4 linked regions of the Homo sapiens genome follow. The protein of the gene in region 4 purifies or fractionates together with the protein of the main gene of each other region. This does not show direct contact. Each region holds a gene or a part of one and is shown on either strand. Other genes may lie near its edges. The genes, in order: TXNDC15, CEMIP2, SUSD1 and DNAJC25-GNG10.

What was found.
Region 1: the proteins of DNAJC25-GNG10 (region 4) and TXNDC15 purify together in Homo sapiens (affinity purification with mass spectrometry, with the first as the bait; one large-scale study listed by BioGRID). This does not show direct contact.
Region 2: the proteins of DNAJC25-GNG10 (region 4) and CEMIP2 purify together in Homo sapiens (affinity purification with mass spectrometry, with the first as the bait; one large-scale study listed by BioGRID). This does not show direct contact.
Region 3: the proteins of DNAJC25-GNG10 (region 4) and SUSD1 purify together in Homo sapiens (affinity purification with mass spectrometry, with the first as the bait; one large-scale study listed by BioGRID). This does not show direct contact.

Annotation. Positions count from the first base shown.
Region 1 is NC_000005.10:134,880,461-134,884,706, reverse strand, and holds part of TXNDC15 (thioredoxin domain-containing protein 15 isoform 1 precursor), read right to left. Parts: intron 1-4,246. UniProt on the Homo sapiens protein: Acts as a positive regulator of ciliary hedgehog signaling. Involved in ciliogenesis.
Region 2 is NC_000009.12:71,761,801-71,766,046, forward strand, and holds part of CEMIP2 (cell surface hyaluronidase CEMIP2), read right to left. Parts: intron 1-4,246. UniProt on the Homo sapiens protein: Cell surface hyaluronidase that mediates the initial cleavage of extracellular high-molecular-weight hyaluronan into intermediate-size hyaluronan of approximately 10-5 kDa fragments.
Region 3 is NC_000009.12:112,043,025-112,046,777, reverse strand, and holds part of SUSD1 (sushi domain-containing protein 1 isoform 2 precursor), read left to right. Parts: intron 1-3,753.
Region 4 is NC_000009.12:111,629,481-111,634,442, reverse strand, and holds the start of DNAJC25-GNG10 (DNAJC25-GNG10 protein precursor), read right to left. Parts: upstream 3,110-4,962; 5' UTR 3,036-3,109; coding exon 2,700-3,035; intron 1-2,699. Other genes in the region: DNAJC25 (dnaJ homolog subfamily C member 25 precursor), read right to left, coding at 2,700-3,035.

The sequences.
Region 1 (4,246 bases), on a different chromosome or scaffold from region 4:
TAAAGTAGATATCAAGATATAAGATATTAAAAATATCAAATCGACCTGGGAGGCAGAGGTTGCAGTGAGCCAAGATCAAGCCATTGCACTCCAGCCTGGGCGAAAGAGTGAGACCCTGTCTCAAAAAAATAACTAAATAAAAATAAAAACAATCAAATTGGCCGGGCTCGGTGGCTCACACCTGTAATCTCAGCACTTTGGGAGGCTGAGGCGGGTAGATCACCTGAGGTCGGGAGTTCGAGACCAGCCTGACCAACATGGAGAAACCCCATCTCTACTAAAAATACAAAATTAGCCTGGCGTGGTGGCGCATGCTTGTAATCCCAGCTTTTTGGGAGGCTGAGGCAGGAGAATCGCTTGAACTTAGGAGGCAGAGGTTGTGGTGAGCCGAGATAGTGCCATTGCACTCCAGCCTGGGCAACAAGAGCAAAACTCTGTCTCGGGAAAAAAAAAAAGATCAAATTGTACCCTTTTTTTTTTTTTTTTTGAAACTGAGTCTTGCTCTATCGTCCAGGTTGGAGTGCAGTGGCACAATCTCAGCTCACTGCAGCCTCCACCTCCCGGGTTCAAGCAATTCTCCTGCCTCAGCCTCCCAAGTAGCTGGGATTATAGGTGCCTGCCACCACACCTGACTAATTTTTGTATTTTTTAGTAGAGATGAGGTTTCGCCATGTTGGCCAGGCTGGTCTCGAACTCCTGACCTCGGGTGATCCTCCCGCCTCGGCATCCCAAAATGCTGGGATTGCAGGCATGAGCCACCGCGCCTGGCTTTCTTTCCTTTTTTTTTTTTTTTGAGATGGAGTCTCCCTTTATTGCCCAGGCTGAGTGCAGTGGCACCATCTCGGCTCACTGCAACCTCCACCTCCCAGGTTCAAGCAATTCTCCTGCCTCAGCTTCCTGAGTAGCTGGGATTACAGGCACCCACCACCACACCCAGCTAATTTTTGTATTTTTTTAGTAGAGATGGGGTTTCGCCATATTGGTCAGGCTGGTCTCAAACTCCTGGCCCCAAGTGATCTGCCTGCCTCAGCCTCCCAAAGTGCTGGGATTACAGGTGTGAGCCAGCGAGCCACCAGGCCTAGCCTTTTTCTTTTCTTTTTTTTTTTTTTTTTTTTTTTTGAGACAGGGTCTCGCTCTGTCACCCAGGCTGGAGTACAGTGGCACAACCACCTCCCGGGTTCAAGCGATTCTACCACCTCAGCCTCCCAAGCAGCTAGGATTACAGGCATGAGCCACTGCACCCAGCTAATTATTTTGTCTTTGTTTTTTTGGTTTTTTTTGAGACAGAGTCTTGCTCTGTAGCACAGGCTGGAGTGCAGTGGCACGATCTCACTCACTGCTACCTCCTCCTGGGTTCCGGTTCAAGGAATTCTCCTGCCTCAGCCTCCTGAATAGCTGGGATTACAGGCATGTGCCACCATGCCCAGCTAATTTTTGTATTTTTAGTAGAGACGGGGTTTCATCATGTTGGCCAGGCTGGTCTGGAACTCCTGACCTCGTGATCCACCCACCTTGGCCTCCCAAAGTGCTGGGATTACAGGCGTGAGCCACCATGCCCAGCCTAATTATTTTGTATTTTTGCTAGAGATGGGGTTTTGCCATGTTGGCCAGGCTGGTCTCAAACTCCTGGCCTCAAGTAATCTGCCCGCCTCAGCCTCCCAAATTCTGGGATTACAGGCATGAGCCACCGTGCCCAGCCCAAATCGTACTTTTAAAGACGTAAATTATAATAACTACAATGTCTGAGATGAAAATTGCACTCTATAAGAATAATGGTAAAGTAGACAATACGGAAGAAAATAGTCAACTTGAAGATAGCAATAGAACCTGTCCAGCTCTCCCTCTCCCTCTCCCCCTCCCCCTCTCCCTCCTCTTTCCACGGTCTCCCTCTGATGCCGAGCCGAAGCTGGACTGTACTGCTGCCATCTCGGCTCACTGCAACCTCCCTGCCTGATTCTCCTGCCTCAGCCTGCCGAGTGCCTGCGATTGCAGGCGCGCGCCGCCACGCCTGACTGGTTTTCGTATTTTTTGGGTGGAGACGGGGTTTCGCTGTGTTGGCCGGGCTGGTCTCCAGCTCCTAACCGCGAGTGATCCGCCAGCCTCGGCCTCCCGAGGTGCCGGGATTGCAGGAGTCTCCTTCACTCAGTGCTCAATGGTGCCCAGGCTGGAGTGCAGTGGCGTGATCTCGGCTCGCTACAACATCCACCTCCCAGCAGCCTGCCTTGGCCTCCCAAAGTGCCGAGATTGCAGCCTCTGCCCGGCCGCCACCCTGTCTGGGAAGTGAGGAGCGTCTCTGCCTGGCCGCCCATTGTCTGGGATGTGAGGAGCCCCTCTGCCTGGCTGCCCAGTCTGGAAAGTGAGGAGCATCTCTGCCCGGCCGCCATCCCATCTAGGAAATGAGGAGCGCCTCTTCCCGGCCGCCATCCCATCTAGGAAGTGAGGAGCGTCTCTGCCCGGCCACCCATCGTCTGAGATGTGGGGAGCGCCTCTGCCCTGTCGCCCCGTCCGGGATGTGAGGAGCGTCTCTGCCCGGCCACCCCGTCTGAGAAGTGAGGAGCGTCTCTGCCCGGCCACCCCGTCTGAGAAGTGAGGAGACCCTCTGCCTGGCAACCGCCCTGTCTGAGAAGTGAGGAGCCCCTCCGCCCAGCAGCCACCCCGTCTGAGAAGTGAGGAGCCCCTCCGCCCGGCAGCCACCCCGTCTGGGAAGTGAGGAGCGTCTCCACCCGGCAGCCACCCCGTCCGGGAGGGAGGTGGGGGGGTCAGCCCCCCACCTGGCCAGCCGCCCCGTCCGGGAGGTCAGGGGCGCCTCTGCCCGGCCGCCCCTACTGGGAAGTGAGGAGCCCCTCTGCCTGGCCAGCCGCCCCGTCCGGGAGGGAGATGGGAGCGTCAGCCCCCCGCCCGGCCAGCCGCCCCGTCCGGGAGGTGAGGGGCGCCTCTGCCCGGCCGCCCCTACTGGGAAGTGAGGAGCCCCTCTGCCCGGCCACCACCCCGTCTGGGAGGTGTACCCAACAGCTCATTGAGAACGGGCCATGATGACAATGGCAGTTTTGTGGAATAGAAAGGGGGGAAAGGTGGGGAAAAGATTGAGAAATCGGATGGTTGCCGTGTCTGTGTAGAAAGAGGTAGACATGGGAGACTTTTCATTTTGTTCTGTACTAAGAAAAATTCTTCTGCCTTGGGATCCTGTTGATCTGTGACCTTACCCCCAACCCTGTGCTCTCTGAAACATGTGCTGTGTCCACTCAGGGTTAAATGGATTAAGGGCGGTGCAAGATGTGCTTTGTTAAACAGACGCTTGAAGGCAGCATGCTCGTTAAGAGTCATCACCACTCCCTAATCTCAAGTACCCAGGGACACAAACACTGCGGAAGGCCGCAGGGTCCTCTGCCTAGGAAAACCAGAGACCTTTGTTCACTTGTTTATCTGCTGACCTTCCCTCCACTATTGTCCTGTGACCCTGCCAAATCCCCCTCTGCGAGAAACACCCAAGAATGATCAATAAAAAAATAAATAAATAAATAAATAAATAAATAAAAAGAACCTATCCAAAATGAAACACACAGGAAAAAAAAAAAGAATGGAAAGAAATTAAGAGCATCAGTGGGCCGTAGGACAATTTCAAGTGGTCTAATGTACAGTAACTGGAGTACTGGCAAGAGAAGAGAGTGGAGGAACAGAAAAATATTTGAAGAAATTATAGCCAAAAACTTTCCAAACTTGGTGAAAACTATAAATCCATAGATCTAAGAAGCTCAACAAAACCCAAACTCAATGAACTACAACAAAGCACATCACAATCAAATTGCTCAAAACCAGTGACAAAGAAAAAAATCTTTAAAGCAGCCAGAGGAAAAAAAACAAAACATCATGTAGAGAGGAACAAAGGATAACAACAGGTTTCTCACTGGAAACAAAGCAAGCAAGAGTGCGACTCCATCTCAAAAAAAAAGAAAAAAATGATTTTGGCTGGGCATGGTGGCTCACGCCTGTACTCCCAGCACTTAGGGAGACCGAGGCAGGTGGATGACTTGAGGTCAGGAGTTCCAGAACAGCCTAGCCAACATGGTGAAACCCTGTATCTACTAAAAATACAAAAAAAAAAATTAGCCTGGCATGGTAGCGGGCGCCCGTAATCCCAGCTGCTCGGGAGGCCGAGGCAAGAGAATCGCTTGAACCCAGGAGGTGGAGGTTGCAGTGACCTGAGATAGTGCCACTGCACTCCAGCCTGGGCTACAGAGCGAGACTC
Region 2 (4,246 bases), about 40 Mb from region 4:
TTAAACTGAATGTTGAGGCAAAGAAGGTGGGCTGAGGAGGTGATTGCTTGAGTTTATTAAATCCCTATGAATGGAATAGAGCTTAATTTTCTAAAAGCCCTGGCAAATTTACTCACCCAAATGTGCACCACCAGACGATTACTAATATCTTTCTTATTTTGCATGTGTAAACTAAAGTCTACCACTGAACTCCGCCATTTAAATGACGACACGTTGCCCAATAGTGACTAAAAAGTATGGGAGGGAGGGGAGGGTGACACACTACAGAAGTCTTTCATATTCTTTGAAAGGGTGTCACCTGCAGGTGAGTTCCAGGCCAGAATATAAAACAGTCATAGTCCCTCTCCTCCTAGGCCACGTGAAACCTAAGCCAAACAAAAGGGCCATCTTACACATTCTCAACAGTTTCCTCTATGTTCCTCAAGACTCAAGGGTGCTACAGAGTCAAAAGGCAGAACTTCTAATGAACAAGTAATTACTCAGCACTAGAGTGGCAGCTGGACTTCACTTAGCCGAATAGGGATACACTGTGGCTAGGAAGAGGTGAACAATGATGTGCACCTGTAGTCCCATCCACTTAGAGGCCGAGGCAGTTGGATGGCTTGAGCCCAGGAGTTCAAGACTATAGTGTGCTAGGACTACTATAGAGCCACTGCACTCCAGCCTGGGTAACCTAACAAGACCCCATGCCAGCCCCGTCACCAAAAAAAAAAAAAAAAAAAAAAACTGGCTAGCAGCAGCATAACAGGCAAACAGGGGCTACGTGACAAGCCCAAGTGCTGCAAGCACTAACAGGAGGCAAGAAAAAACACTTGAAGATTAAAGCCAACCTCAGACTCAGCCAAGCCCTGCTCAAGCATATTTTTCAAATCCTCATATAAAGTTGATTTTATAGTGGTGGCACTGGTGGCATTAAAAAGCAATGTTAGTATGGGTGCAGTGGCTCACGCCTGTAATCCCACCACTTTAGGAGACTGAGGTGGGAGGATCACTTGAGGCCAGGAGTTCAAGACCACCCTGGGCAACATGGTGAAACCCTATCTCTACAAAAAAATATAAAGATTAGCTGGGCATGGTGGTGCATGCCTGTACTCCCAGCTACTCAGAAGGCTGAGATGTGGAAAGATAGCTTGAGCCCAGGAGGTGGAGGCTGCAGTGAGCTGTGATCATACCAATGCACTCCATCCTGGGTGACAGAGTGAGACTCCTGTCTCAAAAAAATATATTTTTTTAATGTTATGTTTTTTCAAACCACAACTTAAAAAAAAAAAAAAGAAAACCTCAAGAACTCATTTTTCTAATTCCTCCTGAAACAGGAATCAGGCATATGTCCCTGTGTTAAGCTAAATCTTTCCCATTCCTAAAATGTTAATAATTAACTTTCCAAACTTCATTGTATGTGAAAAAATGATTCATTCTTCAGGGAAGTGAATCACCATTACAGAGACCATTAAGACAACAGAAGGCTTGCTGTCTCCAAAGTGCACACCAATAATTAAGTAAGAGCCCCCAAATCGATAACAATTTCACACTGGAGGGGGACTTAATCTGACCTGACCACGATATCAAATTTATAGTGGATATTCATATGTTTTAAGATACTTACATGAAACTCAGTCAGAGGTCAATTCTTTTCTCATGGGCTCAATGTGGATTGTCTTAAATTTCAACTCTTTCAGGCAACAACATCCTAATGACACTTCTAACCAGTGGTAAAGCCTTATTAAAAAATATGAGGATTAAGAATGCCACAATCTCTACCAGGCAAACTTTTCACATAAAATTCTTATCAAATATTGAACTTTTACTTATTGTTCAAACTACAATGGACCCTTGATACAACAAATGTAAAAAGGTTTATCACTTTTCACCGTGTAAAGAAAATAAATGTCTTGTTACAAATCTGGTTACTAGGTTACCCTAATATTAACAATTTCAAAGCAGATTTGCCTTATAGATCAAAGGACTGATTTGTTGGGAGATAGCAATTCTGTGTTTTAAGACATACAGTTTATGAGTCTTTCACTTTTTTTAAAGACATTTTAATAAAAACCCTATGCTTAATTTATCTCTGTATTGCTCACAGCAACCAGTACAGTGCCTTGCACATCCTAGGAATGCAATAAAATAGTTGCTGAACATAGTTCCTGACAACCAATATTAAAGGCTTCCCAAAGCAAGTACCAGGAAAACAAAAGAACAAGCAAACATGACCTACAGCCATAAGTTTTGAAGAAGAAAAAAAAGAACATGCAAACATATTCTAGTATGCTTTTATTCTATGATTCACAAGCCAAATCTGAACAGGGTTTCCAGGAACTTGCTTCTTCTAAAAAATGTGCACATCTACAGTACTTTAAATTTCCATCCTGTTTATAGAAAATACAAGTAAAGCTAATGCTATTTTTACACTTAGTTCCTTATTTCCCAGAAATTTGTTACAAGTAACATCACCCCACCATCATGTGTAAGTAGTAGGCAATGAAAAAATATACATAGTGTCTGCCTTAAACCTGAAAGCAGTGACTTTCAAAGCCCAAATACAAATTATCTGATCATTAAACTAATTAAATTGCTAACAAAGCCAAACAGGAATAAAATAAGAATATATCTGAGAAAGAAAAAAAAAAAAGTGCTGACTGGAAACAGGGACAAAGGAGTTCTTGTCCCTGCTTGGCTATTAATTTACTATATGACCTTACCTAATTATTTAGCCTCTCTGGGTCCCAACTTCCTTGTTTTAATATTATCTTTGAGGTCCCTTCAAGCGACATGCTAAGATTCAGCATATGTAGCAGTGTCTAGAAAACTGATTTACATTCATTACCCCCCTCCCCACCGCACCCCTGGCAAAAGGGCACAGTTCACTTGATAGTTTTAAATATCTGAGTTTGGATTTCTATCAAAGGCAATTTATTAAAATGTCAGATGGGCTTAAGTCCATTTCAAGTGGAGAACTAAAGCGAGTATTGCTAACAGATTCGCCTAGACAGCAGCTGCTGCTATTGAGAGAATAGACTTTAACAATCTAGATGAAAATTATACCTCTTTACAAATGGAGAAAACTAGTAATGGGGATTTTCATACTCTCAAAAAGGCAGATGCATAGCTTTTCTTCCTTTTTTTTTTTTTCCTTTTCCATATTCATCATATTGAGAGAGAGGAAAACAGAAGGGCTAGCTTGGCTTGGGAGGCAGAGGGGAGAATGGATGTTACCGTACAAAACCAGACAAGACCTTTTCAATTGATGTACTGTACTAGACAGCCCATTCTTCTCACTAATGCTCACAATCCAAGAGAAATGAAAAGATTTCCTGTGGCTGGGATGGGAAGAAGCCTGGACAAGAGAGCAATACCATATGACAGTAACTAGCTTAAAAGTCTAAAGACTTGCTCTCAAGATGGGATTCAGATCATTCTGGAAAGGGCCAATAAAATGAAAATCTGTAGCTGAGACCTGATTAAGCTATGATTTATATCTATTTATAGCTTTAAAAAACTTTTGAAAGTACCTTTTGATACCAGACAGCATTAGCCTGTACAGTACTTTATCATATATTAATACATAGCAAACTTACTCAAATTGAATCCCCAAAACATTCCCATAAAGCATTTTAAAACTCCTTTTTCAGGTGAAGAAACAACGTGAGAAGGATTAGGGGATTTGCCCACAGCAAATGTTTAGCAAGTGCCAAGCCTTGTTTTAAATCCAAGTCTGACTTCAAGTCCTCCAATCTTCACCATTTTAAGATAGTACTTCTGACACTAGTTTTCAGTCCCTACTATTTTGTCTGATTTAACAAATTTTATTTCTCACAAAATTGCTCCCCCACCCCCAACTGTTCCTTCTCTGGCTTCTTAGAGCGTTCTGTGCGTAATTCTCCCAGACATGCACTTATTGGACCTTCTAATTGTTCATTTCCTTATGTCCGGGGCTAGGCTCATTTCTTCAATAGCAGAGATTGTCATCTCTCTAGTTGCAAGTGACACAGGTATCTTCAATCCCTGTGGCCTCCCGGGTTGCAACCACTTCAACTCCTTCTCTTTACCAACATGAATGCTCCACAAAGCAGGTGTTGCAATTGCTTCCAGAGGGTCTGGACCACAATAGGTGATTAATAAGTGCTAGCTGAATGGATGGTGGGTGGGTGAATGATGCAATGCTCATACATATTTTAGAGCACACATCACAATGCACACATTTACATACAGCACTCCATGTGAGTCTAAGACCATGAATTTGGTA
Region 3 (3,753 bases), 410 kb from region 4:
AAGACCCTAGAATAGCAAAGAGAAATTTAACACAGTAAATAGAAGTCACTGTGCTAATTATTATTTTTATTATTATTTACCATTTGGAGAACAGAATTGGTGCTTTCAGGAAGTGACCATGCCCGTGTATATTCATGAAAAAATGTCCACACCCATGGAGCGTCCTCAAGCTGTCACAAAGTCTGAGAGTAGAAATAGGGCCTTTCTAACTTCCTCTTCAGCATGTGATATTTCTATCAGGGAAGGGGTTAAAGATAAGTCCAGCAAGGCCCCATCACTCCTCCTGAGCACTAGCTCTCTTGAGGGAGCCACCATAAAGAGAATGGTGAAGTTTAGTCTTAATGGACTTACTTTCTCCAAGATTGAGTAACTGATGTGGGATATAACACATGAGTGATTCACTTGGGTTTGTAAAAAAATATTCTACAAGTGATTCAGAAGAAAAATAAACATGGTTCTCTGGCATGAGACCATGGAAAGGTAGGGTAACCAAAGGATGGTGAGGCTATAAAAAATACAATTCAAATTTGCCAGTTGTAAATTTTCTTATTAAGGAATTAATGAGGAAAGTCTCTAAAGAAGCTTGTGTGGCAACACTTGTGAGCACTCTTGATTAGATTGACTCAGATTTTTAGAGTATATATGCAAAGTAGACAAAAAGACATATAACCAGGAACTGATCTACCAGCAAGAATCATTCCTGGAGCCAAACCCAAATTGTGCTATGCAGAATAAATAAAGATCATTTTCCAATACTATGTCTAGAGTAAGGAATAGTTGTGCCCAGGTAGATCCTGCTGGTGGATGGTCAAGTGAAAGTCAGCTTCCTTAACTCCTACTTAGCTTTTGTCCTCTTCGTTTGTGAGGGGATAGTTAGAAGAAAGAAAAGAGCTTGCTACCCTACATAGGTTCAAGTCTTCCAACATGGATGTAGCGTATTCTGGCAGGTTCATACAATTTTCACATGAGATGGATAAACCATTGCAAATGATCTTCAATAAACCTTGAAGAAAATGGAGAGATGTAAGAGGACTAGAGATGAGCAAAGAACAAGGAACTTTGTACAAAGGAAGAACCACCAGAAGTGTAGATGATGGTAACTTGAAGTCAAGGCAAAGCAAGGTCTTCAAGTGATGGCTTGTGTATCCCTGGTAGAAAAAACAGCAGTTCCCGGGAGTCAGGAGCTTTAAGAGCAGATTAGGTCAGATTGCTTTCCATTTCTTCTTGCACAGAGTCAGTAATTGGTCAGGGAAATATGGCACGCATAATAACAATAATGTCCTTGTGGACAATGTGGGGACATGAGAGCTGTATGTGGGCTTAGAAACAAGCTGAATGGCTATGCACAGTTGATATCAACTCATTAACAATTATTGATGAGTTGAAATCAAACCCAAGAATATGCATGATATGGATTTCTGTCCACAGTCATCTTCAGTTCAACATATTCATCAATCAGTGATTAAAATATACAGAGGGTTAAAGTGTAGAGGAAAAAATACACAGAAAAAAACTTGATGTCAGAAGTTGGAAGGAATACTGGGTAGATCGGATGAAATGCCAGTGCAGTAAAGTACCAGCTCCCCCGTTCATCTCCAGAATTGTATTTTCTCTTAAAAACAAAACAAAACAAAACAAATCTAGTTAATTAGTCCACCAAGATGGCATTTAAAAAAATGTTTCTGAGTCATGCACAAAGATGGCATCTTAATGCCTTAATTTGCATTTTTATTACTTGTAAGAGAGCATTTGCTCAAAGTTTTATTGATCATCTGTAATCATGTTTTTCATGTGATTTACCTTTTCGTAGAATTTTCTCATTTCGCTATTGAGGTATGTCTTTATTAATCTGTAACACTCTCTGTATGTTAACTTCTTGCCCATTATTCTAGATATTTTATCCAGCTTGCCATTTGCCTTTTAATCTTGCTTATGGTAGTTTTTGGTATAAGAAGTGCATGCTTTTTAAAGTGGTTAAATCTCTCATTCTCTTAAGGTTTCTGTGTTAACGAATATGCTTAGAAATTTCTTACCCCCTTTAATATTAGGTAAATATTCACTAACATTTCCTAATCCTTTTAGGTTTCAATTTAAGTCTGTAATCCATCTGGATTTTATTTTGATATATGGTGTAAGCTCTAGTGATCAAAATTATTTGATTCTAAATGGTTAGCCAATTTTCTCAGCACTGGTTATGAAAAATTTATCATTTCCCCAATGATCTGAAACAGTATCAAAACAACAAAAACAATAATAATTAACAATAGCTAACATTTGCTTATTGCTTATTCTGTGCCAGGCACTGTTTCAACCTGTACTAACTCACTGACTTCTCCCACTACCTAGAGGTGGGTAGTATTGCTATCATTCCCATGTTATTACAGCATCCCTCAGTGTGGGGACTGAGACACAGAATGGATGAATAACTTGCACAAAGTCACACAGGCAGTGGTGGTGTTCAGATAAAGACTTGGACATCTGACTCCAGTATTCAAACTTTGAAAGTATTTGATATGCTTGGATTTGTTTCTAGGCTATTTTGTTCCAATGTATTCATTCCTATTCTAATACTGCACTGTTTTACTGTCTTGCAATTCAAGTCACTCTCCTAATATTTTTTCTTTACTAATTCTTCACTTAATCACTGTTTCTCCTTCCATTTTATAATCTAGTTTCTTGGCTGGGCATGGTGGCTCATGCCTATAATTCTAGCACTTTGGGAGGCCAAGATGGGCAGATCGCCTGAGGTCAAGAGTTCGAGACCAGCCTGGCCAACATGGTGAAGCCCTGTCTCTACTAAAATACAAAAACTAGCCGGGCGTGGTGGAGTACACCTGTAGTCCCAGCTACTAGGGAGACTGGGGCAGGAGAATCGCTTGAATCCGGGAGGTGGAGGTTGCAGTGAGCCGAGATCATGCCACTGCACTCCAGCCTGGGTGACAGAGCAAGACTCTGTCTCAAAAAATAATAATAAATAAAAATAAAATAAAACAAAATAAGTAATCTAGCTTCTTAAAGTGTCAAGGCCATTTTTCTTCTATAGACTAAAAGCAACCAAATAATATAAGCCATGTTTTCTAGAAAGGCTCTTGGCAGCATTTTTTGAGAATTAGTAACCGCCCAATGAGTTTTCCTTGCCTGCTGCCTAGACAGAGCTGATTTATCAAGACAGAGGAATTGCAATAAAGAGCTTAATTCACACAGAGCCAACTGTATGGGAGACTGGAGTTTTATTATTACTCAAATCAGTCTCCCTGAAAATTCAGGGATGGGGTTTTTAAGGATTACTTAGTGGGTAGGGGGTAGGGGATGGGGGGGTCAGTGAGTCAGAAGTGCTGATTGGTTGGGTTGGAGATGAAATCACAGAGTCGAAGCTGTCCTCTTGCACTGAGTCAATTTCTGGTTGGGGGCCACAAGATCAGATGAACCAGTTTATGGATCTGGGTGATGCCAGCCGATCCATGGAGTGCAGGGTCTGGAAAATATCTCAAGCACTGATCTTAGGTTTTACAATAGTGATGTTAGCCCTAGGAGCAATTTGAGCAGTTCAGAATCTTGCAGCTTCCAGCTGTAGGACCCCTAAACCATAATTTCTAATCTCATGGCTAATTTGTTAGTCTTGCAAAGGCAGTCTAGTCCCCAGACAGGATGGGGATTTGTTTGGGGAAAGGGCTATTATCGTCTTTGTTTCAAAGTTAAACTATAAACTGAGTTCCTCCCAAAGTTAGTTCAGCCTACGCCCAGGAATGAACA
Region 4 (4,962 bases):
TGCCTCAACGGATAATGTGCAAGGCTGAAGCCCTCCAAATTGGATGACCTCAGTTCATTAAAACCTTGCATTACCCAGAAAACATATTCTTTGGCAACTTCCTCACAATTCTCCGTTATGACAGAAGTTAAAGCAGACCACCCTGTAATAATTGCTCCCACAGACAGCAAGTCAAAGTCCTTATCCTTATTCCAAGAGAGAGCATCTTCAATGAGGTAAATAGTTCTTGGAGGTGCTCCACTTGGAAGATGAATATATGTTCATCTCCATAAATTTAAAATGCAAGTTTTCAAAGAGTTCTGCTGGGTCTGATTTTCCAGGGTCCAAAATATCTCCAGACATCCCTTTTGTCTCACAGATAATTTCCACAGTAAGACAGTGGGCGTTCTGGGGGAGCTACAGAACACTCCCCTCATTCCCTCCTCCACCAGTACAACTCCACTTCCACTCCCCTGTTCCAAGATATTTGTAGCTATCACAAACCCGTCAGAGTCAAGAGTACAAGTGTTACCTACTCCAGACATACTGGTCTTTAACTGCCTAAACGTTCCTTGATCTTGAGTGGATCACTTATTTTATCTAGCTTTTCATTAGCTGACAATGAGTGGTAAACTTTAGGGGTAGAAACCTTTAGAGGCAACCATATAGATTCATCAGATCAGTTCCGGGATGGGGGCACTGATCAGTCTCTCCTGGTGGCCCTCCCAGCAGGAATCTCTACCATCACTATTTCTACCCTCTAATCATGGCACTTGTTTTCAAAGTTCTTACCAACATGCTCACCATTCTCATGCCAAAACTACTCATCTCCACTCCTACAAAGCCCAGCAGAAGGCAACAGCTGGCAGTGTTTCTGCTGCCCTCTCTTCTGGAAGTTCTCCATCTTCCAGAAGATGGGTTGACACAGAGGGTAAGCGTCCACTTGTTTAACTTCCAAAGTCCATAAACTCCCTAAATCCCCAAAAGTCAAACACACTAAATACTATTGCATGGTCTTAGTTTATAAAGCAGTGTGTGAAATCATAATGGGATAACTGATATACAATCCAAATATCACTATCTTTAACCTAATTATCTATATCATCCTAACAACTACTGCATTCCTGACACTCAACCTAAATTCAAGCACCACAACCTTATTACCATCTCGCGCCTGAAACAAATTAACATGATTAACATCCCTAATCCTATCAATTTTACTATCCCTAGTAAATCCCATTATGATTTCACACACTGGTCCAGGGCTCCCTCACGCACCAGCAGGGCTTCTGGCTGACTACAAGGAACAGAGGTTGGAGCTTCATATGCTGAAGTGCCTTGGATGGAGAGTTCTTTCCTATTTTTTCTGGAGTCTTTTTTCCATCACTTTTTACATAATCGGCAACAAAGCCCTTTGGGGCCTCAGCACTTTCCCAGTTCCCCAGCCATCCCTCAGTTAACTGCCAATAAAAATTACAATCTCACTAACGCTAGTGAGAATTTAATGAACTAGGTAAATTAAATTTTACCTAGTTCAATTCACCTAGTTTACCTAGTTCAGGGCCCGCCCCTCCACCACTCATTTTATGACTCCAAATTATCCAAACTGCTCTGGAAGGCATCAATAAAGTTGTTAGCTCCTTGACTATTTTCAGCTCTGGAAAAACAATCTGGAGGAACAATCCAAGGTAAAATTATATCCACTCAAAGTACAATCATTAAAAGCAGGCTACCTGGCAACATAGAAAATTTTGCCTCGGGAAAAAAAAAAAAAGGCTAGAAAAGAAATACTTTACAACTACAATCGCTGACGCATTAGTATGATGGGGCCCTTCAAGCAGTAATACCACCATCAAGTACGATTTATACTTCGTGATGTCCTAGATGGTTTGATTTTTTGCAGTAGTAGAAGAAAACAGCATCGGGCTAAATCTCTCATCCCCACAAGACTCAATAAAACCTGTCAAATGAAATACAAATACATATTCACAAAATATTTCCTACTAGAAATTCTCAGAGTTTTGTACCCAAGTCATTAAGCACCTATTTATGGATCCTATGGAAAGGGGGGCGGTTCGCACACTTATCATTTAATCCCCATAATAACTCTGAGAGGAGGTATCATGGCCTTAATTTTGCATATGAAGAAACAGCTATTTCAACATAATAAGTCACTATCCAAGGTCATACAGGGGTGTCACAGCAAAGACTCACATCCAGCCTTTTGACTGGTGTTCATTGTTCTTCTCAGTGTTTTCTTAGTTCCTTAAACCCAAACTAAGCGTCACCATTAACACTATTTCCAGAAACCAATTTTCTGTCATATCAAACTGATGCGATCACAGTTGTCACTTGATATTCGAGACTTTCCCTGTTGTGGGCTACCCCAGATCCTACTAATAATGATCACCCTGCTTTTCGAATGTGAAATGCACGTTATTAAAATATTTTCACGAAATCGTAAGATGGCCAAAGTTTTGCATAACAATGTCACAAAAAGGAAGAGGGCAAGGAGGCTAGCTGTGCCCCCCAAGGCCCCGTGGGGCCGACTCGGCTCTTTCACAGGGCCACGTGGGAAACGTGAGTATCTTAAAGGTCGCGGTGGTGGCTGTGCTCAGTTTCGGGGTCACAGAGGCCCACGCTCCGCGGACCGGGGTCGGAAGGCGCCGTGGGCTTCCCGCGGCCAGTCTTCGAAGCCCCTCCACGCCCGCAGGCCTCACCTTGAGTGTCTCGTAGGCGGTTGCCACCAGCAGGAAAGCCTCCTCGGCGCTCTGCGGCGTCCGCCCGGGGCCCTCGTCTCCGGGCTGGGGCCGGTAGCGGTCAGGGTGGTAGCGCCGGGCCAGCTGGCGGTAGGCCCGCGCGATCTCCGCCTTGCCCGCCGAGCGGCTCACGCCCAGCACCTCGTAGCAGTCCCGCGTGCCGCAGTAGAGCCCCTCCACCAGGGCCCCCGCGGGCCGCACCAGCAGCAGCGCCGGCAGCAGGGGCGCCAGCAGCATCCACCAGCGCCGGCCGGCAGCCCCGGCTCCCCAGCCGGGAGAGAGCAGCGGCGCCCCCATCCCCAGCCTCGCTGGCGGCTCTGCCACCCCAGCGATTCTGCAGCACTCAGCCGCGCGCCCGGCTAGTCCCGTCTGGCCCCAGCTACACGTCAGCAGCCGACGCCTCCGCGCAGGCGCACAGGGCGCGGCTACAGCAACTACTTCCTTCGCAACCCGTTGGTAGGGAGAAGGACGCCTCAGCCACTAGGCTGCTTCCGGTGTGTCACTGAACACCTTCCCCGTACCAGCAGCTGGAGGATTTGTTTGGTAGCACCTGGGGGATGGCTCTGTCCCGGGCGCACTTAGGCGGGCTGTGCGGAGCGCTTTACCTTCCACAGTGTCCGGCACACGCATCCTTTTCGACATCATCACTTGACCTGCTGCAATAGGTAACCTACCTGGCTCTCTCGCATCCCGTTATCAGCGTCAAGAAGATTTGCACGTAGGCCTTTAAAGCCAGCCACCAGCCCCGGGCGCCTTCCTCTCACTAACCCCATGCTGCCTTTCCAAACGGAAGATGAACTTAGCAATTCTAGGCGCTGCCTGTGTACTAGGTAGGGACCCTGAAAGTTCATAGCCATCTAGTTCAGTTTTTCTCAGCCTCCACGCTATTGACATTTTAGACCAGATAATTCTTTGCCTTTGAGGGGCTGCCCTTTGCATTGTAAGATGTTTAGCAGCATATCTGGCCTCTCCACACTAAATGCCAGTAGTGCCACCACCCCCAGTCATGACAATAAAAAATCTCTGTACGCGGGTCTGTGCGTCCACCTTGGGCTGCGCGTTCCCGGGACAACCTGCTGGAAGGATCAAGCGATCCTTCCAAAATGCTAGGATTACAGGCGTGAGCCACCGTGCCCGGCCTACATTTGAATTTCAGATAATAATTTTTTAGTATAAGTATGTCCAAAATATTGCATGGGACTATATGGCAACATGAAAAACTTTGCCTCAAAAAATCTGTTTCTATCATTCATCTGGTAAATGTTTATTGAGTCTCTACTCTGAGCCGGGCACTGTTACTTAGGCACTGGGGATACAGTGGTGAGCAAAGTAAACAAGAAGCTCAACTTCAGAGAGCATATATTCTGATGGAGGATGACAGTCAGTAACAAATAAATAAACGTTCAGATATAATCAACTCTTTTAATAAAGTGAAATCAAATACTGATACATAGCATTATATACTTATAATACATAATGAATATACATTATAATTTTGTATTTCTCATTGAATAAATATATATCTCTCATTACATATATCTCCCTCATTACATATATAATATATATAATCTCATTACACATATATGTCTCTGTCATTACATATATAACATATATGTGTCTATTTTTCACCTCAGCCCACTAAATATTGCATGGGACTATATAGCAACATATACAGTTATATATGTAATGAGAGAGATACATGTATATGTAATGAGATACAAAAGTTATATATATAATAACAATTTTGTGTATCATATATGCTTATTTACATTTGTATCTCATATATGTTTATATATGCTTATATATGGCTTATATATATGCTTATATATATATATAATGAGAAAGATAAAATGAATGGAAACACATGGGAGGGTCTCCTGAAATTATTAGGATCGGGATCAATTACAAGCATCAATTCCAGTAGGAGCTGACAGCTAAACTGACTTTGGAGGACGAATAGAGAATGGCTTGAAGGATGTGAATTAGAGAGGAGTTTGGGGACAAGGGAGTGTGAAATAAGTACCAAGAAGAGAAACGAGCCATGGGCAAGAAAAAAATAATAATAAAGCTTTTCAAAAAATGAAAGACAACCTATATGACTAGGAGTAGAGGTAAGGAGTGTAGGAGATGAAACTGGAGAAAGCCAAGTTGCAAAGGGTCATTTTATCCCATGTCAAAGAAGTTGTTCCTTATCTTAAGAGCAATGGAAAGGCCAATATGGGGT